3 separate regions of the Homo sapiens genome follow, and all the other regions are reported to be linked to region 1. Evidence: microRNA targets listed by miRTarBase, many of them from high-throughput screens and not tested one by one. Region 1 holds a microRNA gene; each other region holds the end of a gene's coding sequence.
The links. The annotated mature microRNA hsa-miR-4667-3p reads UCCCUCCUUCUGUCCCCACAG and lies in region 1 at 846-866, opposite strand. An mRNA with a match to its seed (bases 2 to 7 or 8) in the 3' UTR can be bound and repressed. Matches are read on the target gene's strand: a 7mer-m8 pairs with bases 2 to 8, a 7mer-A1 pairs with bases 2 to 7 and ends in A, and an 8mer does both.

Region 1 (3,257 bases):
GAAGGGGTTGACTCGAGTCAGATTGTCCCCCCAGTTGGGGGGTGATTCTGGTGATGGGGGCAGGAAGAGGTCTGACCGGCTTCGGGAAAGCCGGGGATCTGGCCTGGGAAGCGTGGCAGAGGGACCCCCTCTTGCAACAGAGCCTGTAGATAGAGAAGTCTGGAATCACTGTCCTCAGCATTTGATCACAGCTCCTTGAGGGCCTCACTATTCTCCAGGAGGCTGGTGGGACTAGAGCTTGAAAAAGGGAGTCCCACCTGGTGCTTTGGAAAGGGGTGATGTCATCTCCAGGCCCCTTTTACTTCTTTCCCCTCCTCTCCCTCAAGCTTTAGCATTAGGAAACTGTCTTCTTGGAGATGTCCTCCCACCCTACCCCAGCCCGACCCCCAGCCTTTTCAACTAATAAATATACTTAGCCTCCCCCATGTCACCTCTGAATTCTAGGGAGGACAAAGGCCAAAGGACTCAAGCTGGATCAAGGTCAGGCTCCCTTACCCTGATTGTGTGTCAGGGCGGTCCTGGTGAGTGGGGCTGGCTCAGGCAGCTGCTCCAGGATCCATTCCAGGTGCTGGGTAATTTCGGTGAAGGGGGCACGGGTGCTGGGTTCCAGCTGATGGGTAGAGACAGGAACGGCTTCACTCAGTGCTCCGAAAGAGGGTCTCTGAGTTTCCTCCCATCACCTGGGTCCCACAGGGCAGCCATGGCAGCTTACGGATGGGGGCAGGGTGGGGCAGGAAGGAGTGTGAGGCTCTTACGTTGCAGCAGTGGATGGCCAGGAGCAAGAAAGGCAGTGGGCAGTCATCCCCCACCAGAGTTCGGAAAGCAGGCACATCCAGGCCAAAGTCCTGTGGGGACAGAAGGAGGGACCTCCAAGTCAGCTTTTCTTGGGTTCTCCTTCTGCTCCCCAGTCAGAACCTCAACCTCTAGGGAATCCTCCTTGGTTATGAGCCAGCTAGTCTGGAATTCTTTCTTTGCAAACCTAGAAACATTCACCTCAGTGCGTGGTAGGTAGTCAGGGTCTGCAGGTACTCGGGCGATGAGCTCACAGAGGACAATCCCGAAGGCAAAGACATCAGCCTGGGGGTCAGAGATAATAGTGTCGGGGAAGAATTAACAGTTTTCATTTCAGAATTTTGACAGAATATAGCAGAATTTGGTTGAGGGTGGGGGATCTTGACAGTTTTCATGTGTTAGAAGGGTGCCTGTGAGGGGCAAAGGGATCTTGGGGACTCCTGAAGATCTGGTAGGGTTGTTTTGGGGATGGATGGGGCTTTATGAGAATACCTCAAGGGTCTCGGAAGGCCTTGGGGATCTGAAGGGTTGATGTCTCACCTTCTCATCATACAGCTCACCCCGTAACACCTCTGGAGCCATCCAGTATGGGGAGCCCACCACGGCCAATGGCTCCTTCCTTGCCCCCTCCCTGCAGGGGCAGGGGCAGAGTGGTCAGAAGCATCCTATTCAGGCATCCCCCCCAGGCAAAAGGGGATGAGGTGAACTCCCTCCGTTCCCCAAGGGAAACATCCCTGGGGCTCTGGGGACATCAGATAGGGGCACTCTGGGAGATTTGGGGGGAACAGGGACATTCATCTCACCTATACACAGGAATCTTTTCGGCCAGCCCGAAGTCACCCACGACAGCGGTGAAGCCTCGATCTTCCCGTCGGACTAGACAGTTCTGACACACACACACATAGTATCCCCACGCACTCATCACCTTCTGCTGTCTGGCCTCCCAATGTATAACCCAAAGCCCTGTCACTCCAGCATAACTCCAACCCTCTCTGCTCTCCCAGTTTTTCAAGGCACTTCAATATTGCAACATCATCCAACACTCCAAACACAGGGTGCTACTCAGTCCCTCCGAGCACTCCCCTCACCCTGGTCCCCCAATATTCTCCAATGCCTTGCCACTCCAACATCCTAATATATCTGTTATCCATATTCCAACATCCACAGGCCAGTTACAACCTAATAGCCTCAAACCCTCTTTCATGTCTCCACCCACCCTGCTAGCCTACCTTGGATGTGAGGTCGCGGTGAAATACACCTTTGGAGTGCAGGTACCGCAGGCCTCGGGCAATGTCCAGGGCCAGGTGGAGCCTGACCGGCCAGGACAGGGGTTCAGGGGAGCTGAGCAGCTGTTCCAATGTCCCCCCATTCATATACTGGTGCATAGGAGGAGAATGGGAATAGATGTCAGACTTCAGTCTGTATTCTAGGTCCCCCACTTACACGCTAGGGGACACTCCCGAGGATCACAGAGGTCATAGGGGTAAGACTGTGCTGTAGGACCCCCCCCATCCATGTTCTAGGATTGCCCCGTTCAACTCAATAGCCATTAGCCATGTGCAACAATTTAAATAATTTAAAAAATTTTTTAATCAAGTTGACCCACAAAAAATAATCTAAACAATGAAAATAATTTAAATTTAACCACATGTGGCTAGTGGCTACTGTATTGGACAGCACAGATAGAGAACATTTCCGTCACTGAAGAAAATTCTATTGGACAGCACTGTTCTAGGGGATACAGAGAATAAGACCAGTTGAGGCCTTTTATATGTGGTTTGCCTAAAGGAAAGTTCAGGAAAGCCTCCCCTGAGAGGAGATCCTGTTGCCTCTCACTAGTCCTCCGTAGATCCACCAGGCCTGTTGACTCCCTTTATCCTTGGGGGTGAAGGGGGGTGGGGATCCCTCCTTCCTGGCCTATCCTCACCTCTGTAAGAGCGTGCAGCTGTCCCTGGTGCACACAGACTCCCATGAACCTGCAAGAGGATGGGGAAGATAGAAGGATAGGCTATTAAAGGCCTCAGCTCCTCCTCAGTTCCACTTTTCCCGCGGGATCTTTCCCTTTCTCTCCCGCCCAGCAAGCTGCCCAGAGACTGGGGCCGCTCACCTTAGGATGTTGGGGTGCCTGAGCCGGTTCATCAGCTGCACTTCCCGTAGTGTGTTGCCCCGGTTACTGGGGAGCTTGTTCATCTTCAGCACCATGACTTGCCCTGACTGTCGGTGCCGAACCTGGGGGCAGGAGCAGCCGGCGAGGGCCGGGCAGGTCGGGCGGGTCGCCGGAGTCTGGACCCTCTTCCCCGCACTCCCGGCCCCCTAGTTTCAGCCTCTGGTTGAAGGCTCGGTCCCGCCCCTCTGCCCTCTCGGCCGGTCCTACCTTGTAGACCTCAGAGAAGAAGCCGGCCCCGATCTTCTCCGCGCAGTGAAAATCGTCCACACGCGCCAGGCTAGACACGGCGCTGCGGAGA
Region 2 (3,257 bases), not on the chromosome of region 1:
CCCTTAGGATACTTGTAGCCCAAGGAGGAGAAGGATTTAGAAAAGTTTTGAGCGCTTCTTGGGCTGCACATAAGTGCAGTAACTTTGAGATGCTAGTACCTGGCCAGGTCTTACCTCTGATACCATCAGCAGTCAGCTATAACATACAGTGGGCCCATGTAACTCATTCTCTTTTTCTCTCTCCTCTTTTGCTCTGCAGGACCTGGGTCGGTGAGAGGAATAAATGGATCCATCAGTCTGGCCGTACCACTGTGGCTGCTGGCAGCATCTCTGCTCTGCCTTCTCAGCAAATGTTAATAGAATAAAAATTTAAAAATAATTTAAAAAACACACAAAAATGCGTCACACAGAATACAGAGAGAGAGAGACAGAGAGAGAGAGAGAGAGAGAGATGGGGGAGACCGTTTATTTCACAACTTTGTGTGTTTATACATGAAGGGGGAAATAAGAAAGTGAAGAAGAAAATACAACATTTAAAACAATTTTACAGTCCATCATTAAAAATTTATGTATCATTCAGGATGGAGAAGGTTCTACTGGGATATGTTTATATCTACTAAGCAAATGTATGCTGTGTAAAGACTACACCACACTAAGGACATCTGGATGCTGTAAAAATAAGAGAAGAACCAGATGGATATTAAGCCCCCCAACACACACTTTATCCTTCCTTCCTTCATCTTTTTTCATCTGTGGGGAAGAAAATAAGGTCTTGCCTTTGGTGTTTATATTTCCATAACCTTTTAATTCTATTTTTCATTTGAGCTGACTTGTAGCCACTTCAGACTATCAATGGAATCTTATGTTGAGCCTTTCTCTGGCTTTCCTTCCTCCACTATCTCTCCAACTTTAGAGATCATCCCCTCTCCCTCCAGTGCGTTCTATCTCCCCCACACCCACCCTAGATACTCCCTTTTCACCCACCTTTCCTCCCTCACCTCTCCTCACCTCCACCCCCTCCCCAGAGCACTAGTCATGCCGCAAATGCTAGGAAGTGCCATTTTCATTTTCTCCACTGTGCGTGTGTGCTCAAGTCTTTCGCTCTCACGTGGGTGTACATGTGTGTGAGCGTGTGTGTGTCTCTCTCTAAAGCATGCCAAGGGAATGGTCCATGTGTACATAGACTCATTGTGCTGTAGATACTGTCCTGCATTGTAATTGTGAGATGCGGCTGTAACAAGTTGCTGGGGGAGATGGCGGGGAAAGAGGCAAGGAGCAGAGTCCTCCCTACATCCATGGCTGTCACATGGCATCAGTGTGTATTCAAACCAAGCTATGCTCCTTCCAAGGGCAGGACCCCATATTCCTCCTAGTCCCATCATCAGAACCGAGTGGGGAGTCACTCAGAATATCACTGTAAATGAAAGTGCCTACTATCGATGGGGTAAGCAAACAGCATAAGGAATTATGACGTGGACGAGGTGACCTAGGAGAGAAAATTTCAGATTTTACTCTCATTTCATGAGTCTGAGGGATTCTTATATTTCCTGGCATTTAACAGGGTAGGCCCTGCTCCACTGTGAAAATGAGCAGCATGTGTTGAGTAAATCCCCAGAAACAGGAAGGTCTCCAAGTGTCAACTCCCAGTGAAAGAATGATGAACCACTTGGAGATCCTAAGCAGCCCTGTTTTACCTCCTCCCTAATCTTAAATAACATTTGTCCCATGAATTCCCCTGAGCAGAGATTGTTTCCTATTTCAGATAAAATACAGTGAAAGTGAGCAAGGCAGAAAAAGTCAACAGATGCCCAGGCTCCTACTGTATTCTGGAGATACTGTCAGAGCTCTAATACAGAGCACTGGCCATAATGAAAAGCAGTTCACTCCTTGTGCTCCTCTGCAGATGTTTTTCCCAGTGTTCTAGGTTAATGTTTTATTTGGTTGCCTGCATAATCCCTGTTCTGTTTCACTGATGGTGTTTGCAGCACCACTGTTCATGGTGGTCCACTGTTATCCTATGCCAGGGTGCTAAGAATTGCATGATATTCATCTTCCCTGCTCTATTTAAATTTACATCTATAAGAGTCATCTTGACATTAACACTGAAATGTGATCTAGGTCCTTAACCAAAATTGCTGGGCAACTTGTAATAAATTTAGACAGAAATTTTATGAGTACCACAAAGCTTGGTGTTACCACATCACCAGAAGGATTTCTTAGGAAATGTCTTGCCGAGAGAGCTGGCTCTCTGCATATAGATGTCTTTGTCAGAAAACCAACCCTTGCTCTCACTTACACAGTAGTAAGCACTGAAAGTGGTTCAGTTCATGAGAGGACAGAGAATTATTTTGAGATTATATTTGAATGTAATCTTGCAGAGCCAAATATGGTATGTCATTAAGTTGGAACCTTGTAAATAGCTGTTCCATGTTATAAAATGAGAAACTTTGTAACTGGAAAAAAAGAAAGGAAAGAAGGAAGGAAGGAAGGAAGGAAGGCAGGGAGGGGGGGACGGGGAAGGGGGGGAGGGAGGGAGGGAGGGAGGGAGGGAGGGAGGGAGGGAGGAAGGAAGGAAGGAAGGAAGGAAGGAGAAAGGAAAGGAAGGCAGGAGGGAGAAAGATCTAAGTAGCATTGTTAATTTCTTCAATTTCTTCTAAGGGATTTTATTGTTTGTTTTAGAAGCTTATCACAGCCTTCTTTCATGATTTTGCAGTTTAGACTTGATACAAGGAAAAATTCAGCTTGGGGATGGTTAAGAGTGTTTATAGCAGATTCTGACATAGGAGAGAAAACAAATTCTCATCCAAGAAGGTAGCTAGTAAAATATAGGGAAGGTGAGCCATATTCCTATGCAGCATCAATTTATTGACAATCAGGTATTTCTCTTAACAGTTTGGTCTTCTTAGTTCAAGAATAAAGGGTATCATCTTTAATAATAAGCATTCCCCAAAAATTGAAGAGGCAGTCACACACTTAAGTGTGTGGCTTTAGAAAAGCGCATGCTAATTTAAAGATATACAGGAAGAGAAAAGTAGGAGTTAAGTTGGATGTTGTTAGAAGTTGGATGTTAGTATTACCTTCAGGAACAGATCCCCATGGCATGTCACAGGCCTTAATTATATACCTGGCTTTCTTATTGTCTCCACTTTATCATGAGGACAAGGTCTTGGTTTCATGGGAGGAACTTCTCCATTGAAATAAATGTCTGCCATGTCAGCACCGTTTGTTCCCTCAGTTTTAATATAATGGACCATATATTAAACATAATTAAACATATATTTAAATGTGGTGTTTGCCTGTGTCTCTAGCAGGATCTT
Region 3 (3,257 bases), not on the chromosome of region 1:
TTTAATCAGTATGTTCAACTGTAATTAGTTTGGGCATGTAGGAGTTCCTTCTTTGGGGAGCTGATTTCACTATAAACAATATTTTATTAAACATTTTTTAAATAAAGGAGTGTCCACTATAGAGGATCCTCCCTCCCTTCTTGCATTTGTCACGAAGAAAATGTACTGCTAAATCACATACGAATTTTAACAAAGTATATAACCCAAATACATCAATAAGGACTTTTGTCATGTCCCAAACAAGGGTCTCCAGCTCTATTAAGTGAAGAAAATTTTCCCAAAATTCAAAATTTTCAAACATCCTCAAACCTATTTAAAAGATCATTACACTGAACAAATTTTCCACTAGAACATGAAAGTGTTCACTGAAAAAAAGCTTTCCAAGTAGACTGTATTCATATATAGCAGCTCTCTATATACCTATATAATGATATATACGTGTGTGTATATATATCATTAAACATTTCTTGTGTCTATAGGAAAGCTACTAACTTTTTAAAAATTTCAGCATATAAATAGCTATTAAGACAATTCACAAACTCAAACTATTCAACTGCATCTCAAAACATCAAAAGAGAGACAGTTGCACAAAATCTCAATGGAAATAACTGAAAACAGCAAAGAAACCAAAAATAACCCCTAAAATTAAAAGTATACACATACACACACAATTGATAATGTAAAGCAACTTGATAATAACTGCAGGACACTCTACAAACTAATTATTAACCGTTCAATTATACTTTCATTCTAGAGTAAAAACAATAGTTTAAATCTCTTTGGTCCACACATTAGTACATTTAATGTATCCAAGTTATTTTCTTGTTAATTTTGGATTATGAATCATGCTCCATATTACTTTACCATAACTTTCTTAAATCATAAAATAAACATATGTTAAAATAAGTATTCATTCTGGAGATCTGAAACAATTTCCACATGCTATTGGTAATTCCTCTGGAAGAATACGAATGCTTTAAATTATTGACAGAATAGCCAAAGTAAAAGAAGAACACAATTCAAGTCTGGCAGAAAAGAAAAAATCAGATTGACTTGGAAAAGTTATGCCTAAATTTAATTTGTAAAAACATCAGGAATATAAAGAACACATGAAAACAATTTCAGGCCTGTACATAATAAAAATAATCAATTTTAAGATTTACTTCAAAGATCCATGCATAGTTGCTTATTATTTTTTTAAAACAAATTTCCAAGCCAGTGTTAGTAAATCTCCCAAATTGGCTTCCATACTGAGAAAAGTACTGCCTCTCCAACTTCTCATTGGTAAGTTGTGGATATACTCTGCTTCTGGATAGAGAAAAAGTGGTATGGGTAACAAAGTTCTTAAATTTGAATGTAATATAACAAAGGCCTACTTTTATAGCAAATTGGATTAAACAGCAAGGCTACCAGGTTATTTTTGGATTATCCTTAACTTCATATTCTCTGCAATGTCTCCTTTGAGTTAGCACATTATAATTGTATCTGGTGCCAAAAAAAATCTCATTAGGAGACCAGTTCAACCCTACTTCCTATACTCTTACAATTACGTATTGCCAGAACCTCTTAAAATGTTTTATATAAAGGACATTTCCACTTTTGCTATATGCCCTCACAGATTCTTCTACTAAACTTAAATCATAACTTCATATCATAAATCAAGAACTGAACAACTGAATTACTCTAATACACGCTCAGTACTGCATTGATATGCTGAGACTAATTGCCAAATTTTAAAATTATCTACTATATTCCCCAATTTTTACTTAGCAAAATTATGATGTTGCCACATGTCCAAAGTAAAATAGTTCATTACTCTTCCTATATAACTTACTTGTTACTTATTTCTACAAATGAGGTCTTTATTTCCAGAGCCTAATTTAGGCCAGTCTCTAAAAACAGTTAATACTCCAGAATGAAAGACTGTTTATGTTTTGTCAAAAATCAAGATATATGCAACACGTAATACAATCCCACTGAGATACTAGTTATAAAGATGTTTTGTCCATGAGATACAAGGCAAAAACTTTCTTTAGAAGGGTCAAAGAATGCAACATGCATTTCAGACTTTTTTCTTACAAAAATTTTTAAGAAAATCTTCAAATTACATTTTTATGACGCACAAACTACAATCAATGTGTATGACCCTTCAAGTTTCTGAATTTGTATAAACAGAATATGGATGCATGAGAGAAGCTATTAAAAGGGTGTTACTTAAGTTGGTGAAAAGTATGCACCCTATAGAGCTACTCTGAGTTCTTAAAACAGTTGAGCTAGTCTTCAGTTAAGAAGACTTATCTTCCACATCAATTAAATAACAATAATACCTAAACATATTGAAGCCCTAAATCCCAGAAACGCGCAACATTAAAAACCAAATAATTTCTCTCATATTAAACAATTCAGTATTTAGCACTCATACGGGATTTAGTGTTACCGAACAAAAATCTTAGTACATTACCTGAATTCATGTCAAATATGTTCACAGCACTCAGCTACATCTACACTTGCAAATTGTCACATGATCAATGTTAACAAAAAGAAAAGAGTTTGGCACATATATCAATACCTCAAAACGTCCCTGTAACTTAACATAACACTGTTAGGAACGATGATTTCAACACCAATGTTAACCTGATAGGCAGCTAAACAAGGTGCTTTTTCTTGTAACTTTACATAGTGTCTTAATGCACCTTGCCTGAGACAGAGGCACATAAGGTGCAGTGCGGTAGTGCAATCACTTGAACACCAGAGGGCAATCCTTCCACACAGCTCAAGGTCTTCCTTATGCTTTGACCTGCTCAGTCCACATTCTTGCACAATTTCATTTCCACTTGTTAACAATGCCGTTTTCAGGGAATCTGTACATCTGTTTCCTTATGTGAAGTAAGACATTCCCACAGAAACCTCAAAGTGTAGCGAGGATCCTTGAAAAGGAGATGATTAATGTCAGTACAGTCTGTCCAACGCCCCATACCAGCGCTTCCAAAGGGGCCATGTTCTTCCCAGCTACTCTGTAAATGCCCGCTACTGCTGCACCTAAGGAGAAACGGGAGAAAAATGAAGGGATACAGTCACTCGTTTTATAACACACTGCATGCTGCACCTTAAGAGCTCTTTTCATTTCATCAAAACATAAGTCATCATTTTTTTCTCATTTTATCCACTTTCTATGAAAAAGTTTCCCTGTGATTGGTGAAAGTTACAACTTACCATAATACACTTAGCCACTTATTTGAAAAACAGACTTTTCTATT

Region 2: the mRNA of LSAMP is a reported target of hsa-miR-4667-3p. Seed matches in the 3' UTR shown: 7mer-A1 at 2,465-2,471, 7mer-A1 at 2,469-2,475, 7mer-A1 at 2,473-2,479, 7mer-A1 at 2,477-2,483, 7mer-A1 at 2,481-2,487, 7mer-A1 at 2,485-2,491 and 4 more.
Region 3: the mRNA of TMEM170B is a reported target of hsa-miR-4667-3p. Seed matches in the 3' UTR shown: 7mer-A1 at 130-136.

Annotation. Positions count from the first base shown.
Region 1 is chr9:35,605,748-35,609,004 of GRCh38, reverse strand. It overlaps MIR4667 (microRNA 4667), which reads right to left and starts at 911; the gene lies at 846-911. It overlaps TESK1 (testis associated actin remodelling kinase 1), which reads right to left. Exons shown (of 10, transcript NM_006285.3): 1 at 3,167-3,257; 2 at 2,900-3,021; 3 at 2,720-2,768; 4 at 2,022-2,168; 5 at 1,596-1,678; 6 at 1,333-1,423; 7 at 994-1,077; 8 at 756-845; 9 at 496-610; 10 at 1-143. RefSeq lists silencers at 2,878-3,137, 2,919-3,213, 3,148-3,257.
Region 2 is chr3:115,807,357-115,810,613 of GRCh38, reverse strand. LSAMP (limbic system associated membrane protein) reads left to right here. Exons shown (of 7, transcript NM_002338.5): 7 at 200-3,257. The coding sequence ends at 297. The region is part of intron 1 of LOC124906269 (a long non-coding RNA gene); the gene reads right to left. Among named protein-coding and RNA genes, the nearest start is that of SNORD155, 96 kb to the left of the region's middle.
Region 3 is chr6:11,575,213-11,578,469 of GRCh38, reverse strand. It overlaps TMEM170B (transmembrane protein 170B), which reads right to left. Exons shown (of 3, transcript NM_001100829.3): 3 at 1-3,039. The coding sequence ends at 2,909. Among named protein-coding and RNA genes, the nearest start is that of TMEM170B, 39 kb to the right of the region's middle.